2 separate regions of the Homo sapiens genome follow, and region 1 is linked to region 2. Evidence: fine-mapped expression QTL. A gene starts in region 2. The other region holds a variant in brackets. All regions are shown on one strand. Distances are from middle to middle.

Region 1 (4,387 bases), 46 kb after region 2:
CATAGGGGAGAGGATTGACTGAGAACAGCTGGGAAAGAACTGGGGTGATGTAAACATTCTTTTTTTTTTTTTTTTTGAGACAGAGTCTAGCTCTGTCGCCCAGGCTGGAGTGCAGTGACGCGATCTCAGCTTACTGCAACCTCCACCTCCTGGGTTCAAGCGATTCTCCTGCCTCAGCCTCCCGAGTAGCTGGGATTACAGGCACCCGCCAGCACACCCAGCTAATTTTTGTATTTTTAGTAGAGACGGTGTTTCAGTGTGTTGCCCAGGCTAGTCTTGAATTCCAGACCTCGTAATCTGCCCGCCTTGGACTCCCAAAGTGCTGGGATTACAAGTGTGAGCCCCCGCGCCCTGCTGATGTAAACATTCTATATCATGATAGGGGTAGGAGCTACTTGAGTGTATTCTTTTTTTTTTTTTTTTTTTAGAGACGGAGTCTCACTCTGTCACCCAGGCTGGAGTGCAGTGGCGCGATCTCGGCTCACTGCAAGCTCTGCCTCCCAGGTTCACGCCATTCTCCTGCCTCAGCCTCCCAAGTAGCTGGGACTATGGGCAGCCGCCACCACGCCCGGCTAATGTTTTGTATTTTTTTTTAGTAGAGATGGGGTTTCACCATGTTAGCCAGGATGGTCTCGATCTGACCTCGTGATCCGCCAGCCTCGGCCTCCCAAAGTGCTGGGATTACAGACGCGAACCACCACACCCGGCCAAGTGTATTCTTTATCAGGCTGCTGTGAATTTTGATTTGTGAATTTTACCACATGTAAATTTTACCTCAAAAATGCCTGTAAACAGGCTGGGCGCGGTGGCTCACGCCTGTAATCCCAGCACTTTGGGAGGCCGAGGCGGGCGGATCACGAGGTCAGGAGATCGAGACCATCCTGGCCAACACGGTGAAACCCCGTCTCTACTAAAAAAAATACAAAAAATTAGCCGGGCGTGGTGGCAGGCGCCTGTAGTCCCAGCTACTCGGGAGGCTGAGGCAGGAGAATGGCGTGAACCCAGGAGGCGGAGCTTGCAGTGAGCCGAGATTGCGCCACTGCACTCCAGCCAGCCTAGGCGACAGAGCAAGACTCTGTCTCAAAAAAAAAAAAAAAAAGAAAAAAAAAAGAAAAATGCCTGTAAACAATGGGTTGGGTATGCTGGCTCCCACCTGCAATCTGGGCACTTTGGGAGGCTGAGACAGGAGGATTGCTTCAGGCCAGGAGTTGGAGACAACCCTGGGGAACATAGTAAGGTCCCTGTCTCTACTATATATATATGTGTGTGTATATATATGTATGTGTGTGTATATATATATATGTATGTGTATATATAGTGTGTGTATATATATATACATATCTATCTATCTATCTATATATTTTTTGAGAGTCTGGCTCTTGTTGCCCAGGCTGGAGTGCAATGACGCAATCTTGGCTCACTGCAACCTCTGCCTCCTGGCTTCAAGCGATTCTCCTGCCTCAGCCTCCTGAGTAGCTGGGATTACAGGCGCCCGCCACCATGCCCAGCTAATTTCTGTATTTTAAGTAGAGATGGGGTTTCACCACGTTGGCCAGGCTGGTCTCGAACTCTTGACCTCAGGTGATCTGCCCACCTCAGCCTCCCAAAGTGCTGGGATTAAGGTGTGAGCCACCATGCCCGGCCTACAAATTTTTTTTTTTTTTGAGATGGAGTCTCACTCTGTCGCCCAGGCTGTAGTGCAGTGGTGCGATCTCGGCTCACTGCAACCTCCACCTCCCAGGTTCAAGCGATTCTCTTGCTTCAGCCTCCCAAGTAGCTGGGACTACAGGCACGTGCCACCAATCCCAGCTAATTTTTTGTGTTTTTAGTAGAGACGGGGTTTCACCGTGTTGGCCAGGATGGTCTCGATCTCCTGACCTCGTGATCCGCCCGCCTTGGCCTCCCAAAGTGCTGGGATTACAGGCGTGCGCCACCGCCCCCGGCCACAAAAAAATATTTTTTTTAAAATTAGCCAGGCGTGGTGGCATGTACCTGTAGTCCCCACTACATAAGAGGCTGAGGTGGGAGGATCGCTTGAGCCCAAGAGTTTGAGGCTGCGGTCAGCTGTGATCACACCACTGCACTCCAGCCTGGGTGACAAAGTGAGACCCTGTCTTAAAGAAAAAAAAAAAAAAGGTCTGGGAGGCTGAAGTATGAGAATTGCTTGAACCCAGGAGGTGGAAGTTGCAGTGAGCTGAGATCGTTCCACACTGCACTCCACCCTGGGTGACAGAGCAAGACGCTGTCTCT[A/T]AAAAAAATATATATATATATCTGTAAACAAATATTGTACTCTGGTAAGTAGATTTGCTTTTGTAGTGGTGTGGGTTAGGCAATTCTGAAAATTCCTTTGTGTAATCTAGGTTTGAGGAAACAAGTAATTAGGAATAATGGGAGTTAGATTACTTACTAAAAGAGTGACAAATATGGATGGGGAAAACAAAAGTTTACCCTGAAGTGTTGAATTGGAATTGGAGGTATCAGGATGATCTCATGGTTTTATATATAGACAGAGAAAGAGAGTTATGTTATAAAGAGAACTAGTGTGCATGTCTGTGTATGTGTCCCCTGTCTGTTCACTGAGAGGGCCTACAAACAGATATATCTCTAGCAATGAGCAATAAGCGCATCTAGGGTACAGATTTGGTTTCATTTTCATTTTTCTATTTTTCTTCTTTTTTTTTTTTTTTGAGATGAAGTCTCGCTCTGTCACCCAGGCTGGAGTGCAGTGGTGCGATCCCAGCTCACTGCAATCTCTGTCCCCCAGATTCAAGCAATTCTTGTGTCTCAGCGTCCCGAGCAGCTGGGACTACAGGTGTGTGCCACCGAGCCCGACTAATTTTTGTATCTTTAGTAGAGAGGGGGTTTCACCACGTTGCCCTGGCTGGTCTCAAACTCCTGGTCTCAAGTGATCCACCCACCTCGGCCTCCCAAAGTGTTGGGATTACAGGTGTGAGCCACCGCGCCCAGCCGGTTTTTCCATTTTAAATTATGTCTTGAAATAATTTCGGATTAATAGAATAGTTGCAGCTGGCCCGGTGGCTCATGCCTGTAATTCTAGCACTTTGGGAGGCTGAGGCAGGCTGATTGCTTGAGCTCAGGAGTTCAAGACCAGCCTAGGCAATATGGCAAAAACCATCTCTACAAAACATACAAAAATTAGTTGGGTGTGGTGGTGGGCGCATCTACAAAACATACAAAAATTAGTTGGGCCTGGTGGTAGGTGCCTGTGGTCCCAGTTACTCAGGAGGCTGAGGTGGGAGGATCACTTGAGCCCAGGAGGTCAAGGCTGTAATGAGCCGTGTTCATGCAACTACACTCTAGCCTGGGAGACTAGAGTTGAGACACTATCTCGAAAAGGCTGAAAGGCTGGATGCAGTGGCTCATGGCTGTAATCCCAGCACTTGGGAGACCGAGGCAGGTGGATCACCTGAGGTCGGGAGTTCAAGACCAGCCTGGCCAACGTGACAAAACCTCATCTCTACTAAAAATAAAAAAAAAAAATTTTAAATTAGCCAGGCTTGGTGGCAGGCACCTGTAATCCCAACTACTAGGGAGGCTGAGGTAGGAGAATCACTTGAACCCGGGAGGTGGAGGTTGCAGTGAGCTGAGATCACGCTATTGCACTCCATCCTGGGTGACAAGAGCAAAACTCCATCTCAAAAAAAAAAATAGCCAGGTGTGGTGGCGCATGTCTGTAATCCAGCTACTTGGGAGGCTGAGGCAGGAGAATAGTTTGAACTGGGGAGGTGGAGGTTGCAGTGAGAAGAGATCGCACCATTGCACTCCAGCCTGGGCAATGAGAGCCAAACTCCATCTCAAAAATAAATAAATTAATGAAAAGTCTGGGCACAGTGGATCACGCTTGTAATCCAAGCACTTTCGGAGGCTGAGGCAGGTGGATCACCTGAGGTCAGGAGTTGGAGACCAGCCTGACCAACATGGTGAAACCCCATCTCTACTAAAAATACAAAAATTAGCCAGGCATGATGGTGCATGCCTGTAATCCCAGCTATTTGGGAGGCTGAGGCAGGAGAATTGCTTGAACCCGGGAGGCAGAAGTGGCAGTGAGCTGAGATCTCGCCACTGTACTCCAGACTGGGCAATATGAGCAAAACTCTGTCTCAAAAAAAAAAAAAAAAAAAAAAAAGTTGGCTGGGCCTGGTGGCTCATGCCTGTAATCCCAGCACTTTGGGAGGCTGAGGTAGGCAGATCACTTGAGGTCAGGAGTTTGACACCATCGCCTGGCCAACATTGTGAAACCCCATCTCTATTTAAAATACGATAATTAAAACCCCATTGTCTCAGCCGAAAATCTCCTTAAGCTGATAAGCAACTTCAGCAAAGTCTCAGGATACAAAATCAATGTACAAAAATCACAAGCATTCTT
Region 2 (4,387 bases):
CCTCCAGCCCCTCTTGCCATGACAGCCTGTCCTGAGCCTAGTGTAGGGAAGTCCTCCTGCTGGGATTTGTGAGAAGCAAAGTCCACAGCTGCAAATAACGAACCACCTGCCTCCTGCCTCCTTCTCTGCCCCCGATGGCTCAGCTGACCATGGAACCTGCCTTGGCTGGCCACCCCTCCTCTGGAGTTTGCTCCCTTCCTTCCACATCATGCTCAGTCCCCAGCTGGGCAGCTGAGTGACATCACCTCCCACCACCTGGCCTAACCTAGGTGGCAGGTGACTGGGAGGGCTTTATGGGGCCACAGAGCTCCATTATCACCTACCTTGAAGTCGGCAGCTTGTCATGACATGTTAGCCTGGTGTGAGGAAGACCCAGCCAACCAAGGAGGCATGGGTTCAAGCCCCTTCCCCATCTGTGTATTGTGGGGTGAGGCCAAGCTGCTTGTAAGGTGTCATGTTTCTCTGCAGTCCTCCTGCCTGCCCCATAGGGCCTGTACCCCTCTCTTGAAGCAGTGGTGCCCTGCCTTCAACAGCAGGGGTGGGGATCAGTCCCTAAAGCCTTTTGACAAACCCAGGCCCCACATCCCCACTCATCTAAGGTCTGACACTTCCCAGCATGGCAGGGGTTCCTCCACATCCCAGATCACTGGGGCTCCAACTTTCCCAGCCCCCATTTAGGCCCAAGGAACTCTCACAGGGTTCCCTGGAACCTTCCTTTACCCCCACAGGAACCCAACTCCATCCACGGTCCCCCTTGCCAGCATTGGTCCCAATCCAATCCCAATTCCATGCTGGGCTGCTTCGATTCTTTTTTTTTTTTTTTTTTTTTTTTTTTTGGAGATAGGGCCTGGCTCTGTCACTTAGGCTGGAATGCAGTGGTGGCACGATCTTGGCTCACTGCAGCCTCCACTTCCCAGGTTCAAGCAATTCTCCCACTTCAGCCTCCAAAGTAGCTGGGATTACAGGTGCACGCCACCATGCCTGGCTACTTTTGTATTTTTAGTAGAAATTGGGTTTCACCATGTTGGCCAGGCTGGTCTCGAACTCCTGACCTCAGGTGATCCACCCGCCTCGGCCTCCCAAAGTGCTGGGATTACATGCGTGAGGCACTGCACCCAGCCAATCCTTTCTTCTCTAATTTCTCAGAGCGTCCTGGAAGTCCAGACAGGGTCCACACAGGAACCCCAACTCCTCCCTATCAGCCCGACCTCGGGGGGACATAGTTAGAGTATGAGTCATGGGGTCACTGGGCAGGCTAGACACAGTCAACGCCCCACACCCCCACACCCAGTTCCTAAGCTTCTGCCTCCGCTCACCTGCCCTCTGCATACTTGCCTTGGGGCCTGGAGCTGCCTCATCCCCGCCCAGATGGCGAGAAAGGGATCCCAGCAAACCCCTCCCCAGCACACCCCCACACCAACCCCAGGTCTCCCCCTACCAGTGACCCCATGGCCCCCATCCTGTCCCAGGGACCAGCTGCAGCGGGAGAGCAGTAGAGGGCACCCCCCACACCCAGAGGCGGGCCCGGCAGGTTTTTCAGGTCTGCCATTCTGACACCACAGCCGAGAAAGAAATTCCTGGCTGTAATAACTGTTTACAACCAAGATACCTCACCTGGGTGGCACCCCAACAGTTGGGGGGTCATTTCCACATCCTGCCACTATTAGAGCAAATACAAAATCTCAATGTCTGGGCCATTACCCTCCCCAGAGCCCCTGCTTCCTCCACTGCAGTGAACAAATCAGGCATAGGCAGGCAGGTGCCTGAGTAATGGTTTCTTAGTAGCCCAGTCTGGTCTTTCTTGGAGAGCTGGGCCCTGGGTTGGGGGAGGACAGAGGCTACTCCTGGCGGGGAGGAAAGGAAGCAGGGATAGGGTGGAGAAGGGGGGACTCATACTTCTCTTTTCCCCGATCCCTCCTCGTCCATTTCCGGCCGGGAATCGGCTTGGTGCCAGGAAAGGAAATTGGTGTTTTGGGCTTTGCCCCTGTCCTCAGGCCCTCCATTCTCACTGCCCCCCTACCCCCCCACCACCACCCTGCCCTGCATTGTTGGTGTGCCTCTCCCACAGACCTAGCTCTCTACCGAAGGGAACTTCAGTACACCCTGCCCCAGCTCCCCAATGCCCTTATCCCCCTCGCACCCTGGGCCCACTGCTCCCAGGTGCTCACCAATGCCAGAGAGTGCTGTGGGGTAGCCTCAGATACCTCAAAAATAGTTGTCTCGACCAGGCCCTGGCTCCGGCTGGTAGTGGCAGTCAGCAGCAGTGGCAGATGCCTTGGCCACCTCCCACTAGGTAATGGCCCAGCCTACCTGGCCAGGAACTGGGCCGGCCCACACCTTTTAACCCTTGCCTGTCTGCCACCAGGACTAGGGTCACCCCTGGGGGCAGTTTCAGGGCCAGGTCCACTCAGGGTGCTCAGCATGTCTAAGAAGACAGCCTGGGCCAGGCAGGGTAGCTGGTGCCTGTAATCTCAGCACTTTGGGAGGCTGAGGTGGGAGGATTGCTTGAAGCCAAGAGTTCAAGGCCAGACTGTGCAACATAATGAGACCCCCATCTCTACAAAAATTTTTTTTAAAACTGGCCAGGCATGGAGGCCTGTGCCTCCTCACCCCGTACACTTAGCAGAAAACTGGGAAGAAGGGCTGAGAGTGGTGGGAGTAGCAGCTGCCTCTCCTACTGCCCAAATTCCCAGAGGATTAGACGCTGCCCACCCAAGGGGCAACTTGGATCTGGGCCATAGAGGTGTGGGGAGCTGTAAAGTACATGGGAGGCTTCGGGTGTAAACTGAGTTTTTGTGTCTTGGCACTAAGCATCACATTCTGAGGCCCCTACCCTTTCCTCCCAGGGCAAGGCAGTGGTAGAAGGCCTTGGGGCAATTCCCACCCTCACTGGGGAATAATAGTTTCCCAAGTTGGGGACAGAGGAAGTCAACCTTTCTAAGGAGAGGTCAGGTCTCAAGATCCTTCTGTGGCTCCAGAAGAAATAATCTCAATAAATCAAGCACAACTTACACCCTACAAAACACTTATGGGTTTTGATCCCTCTTGGTTCCTACAAATGTAGCAGGATGGCACAGACCCAGCCTCCTCACAGCCATTTTATAGATGCAGAAGCTGAGGCCTGGAAAGGTGAAGAGGCCTGATTCAGATCACAGTGGCAGAAGAGCAGGTGAAATCAGAATTTCCGGGGGCTGGGTCCTGGCTGGGAGGCAGACAGAGGCTACTCCTGCAAGTGGGAAGGAGAAGTAGGGAAGGGGGCTCATGCTTCTTCACATCCATGCTGGGTCTCTCTTCTTCAGAGAGTCAGGCTTCATGCCAGAGAAGGAAATGAGAGCTTTGAGTCCTTACGACGTACTGTCCCTGCCTCCCCTCACCCCGCCCACCACCACCACCATCACCACCACCACCATCACCACTACCACCTGAGCTCTGGGCCAGTCCCGGCACACAGCACACATCCTGTGCTCCATTCAGGACCATCTGCTCTGTGACCCAGGGCCCAAGCCCTACCCAGACCCCTGCAGCAGCCCACACCATGACCTGAAGTGAGAAAAGCTGCAGATGGGCTGAGCCTAGAGAGGAGCTCACTCTGAATCAGCAATGCCCCAGACTCATACTATTAAGGCCTCCCGCCATCCCTGCCCACCTTTCTTCCTGGGTGTGAGATTTCCAGCATGGAACACAAAGGCCCCTTTCATCGCCCTCCCCACTTCACTGCCTGGGGCGGGCAGTGGTAAGGTGGGCATTGGGGAGTGTCCTCTCGGCCACAGCCTCTCCCACCTCTTATGGGCCACCAAAGATGTTGGGAAGTGAGACAGTAATAAAATCAGAGCCAAGAGGGATGAGAATCTGGCTGGCAATGTAGATTGAGTCTCAAAGCTTAGGTCTCCTCATCTGTAAAATGGGTAAAAGGTGGTTACAGAGACAATGGAGGCCCCAAATAACTTTGAAAGGCATTTCAAAGTGCAAGGAAACACACCATGTCATTAATGACTCTTACTAACAACAATTAATACACTCACACAGAGGTGGGCTGTTGTGGGGGTAACTGGGGGAGAGCAGGTAACTGGACCTCCTGGGCCAGGCAGACAAATGGGGCAGTCACTAACACACATCATTGCCCTGGTCCATGACTTTTAATAGCCTCGAAGAGGACCCAACCTCTAAGCCCTACCCCAGCTGGGCCCTGGGCCTCACGTGACCCTGCTGTCACTAGTAAATGGTGAGTCTGGGATTCAACCCAGCTCTGCCACTTACTAGCTGTGTGACTGCTTGAACAAGTCACTTAACCTCTCTGTGCCTCTCTGTCAATTGGGGACGATGATAACAGTATGTACCTCACGGGGCTATTGTGAGCATTAAATCAGTTAATACATTTAAAGCTTGT

Direction of the effects. Positions count from the first base shown, and alleles are read on the strand shown. Sizes are in standard deviations (SD) of each study's normalised expression.
In carriers of allele A in region 1, the expression in testis of the gene that starts at base 2,265 in region 2 tends to be higher than with T alone (moderate effect, 0.44 SD a copy in GTEx).

What was found. PIP is the estimated chance that this variant, and not a neighbour inherited with it, causes the effect. A credible set is the group of variants that fine-mapping cannot tell apart.
Region 1: its variant is the best candidate, but not a certain one, in a credible set for the expression of CCDC120 in testis (GTEx, PIP 0.57).

The regions. Positions count from the first base shown.
Region 1 is chrX:49,011,276-49,015,662 of GRCh38, reverse strand. No RefSeq gene overlaps it. Among named protein-coding and RNA genes, the nearest start is that of GRIPAP1, 11 kb to the right of the region's middle. The variant A/T (reference allele first, on the strand shown) is at 2,251.
Region 2 is chrX:49,056,877-49,061,263 of GRCh38, reverse strand. It overlaps CCDC120 (coiled-coil domain containing 120), which reads right to left and starts at 2,265. Exons shown (of 11, transcript NM_001163321.4): 1 at 2,169-2,265.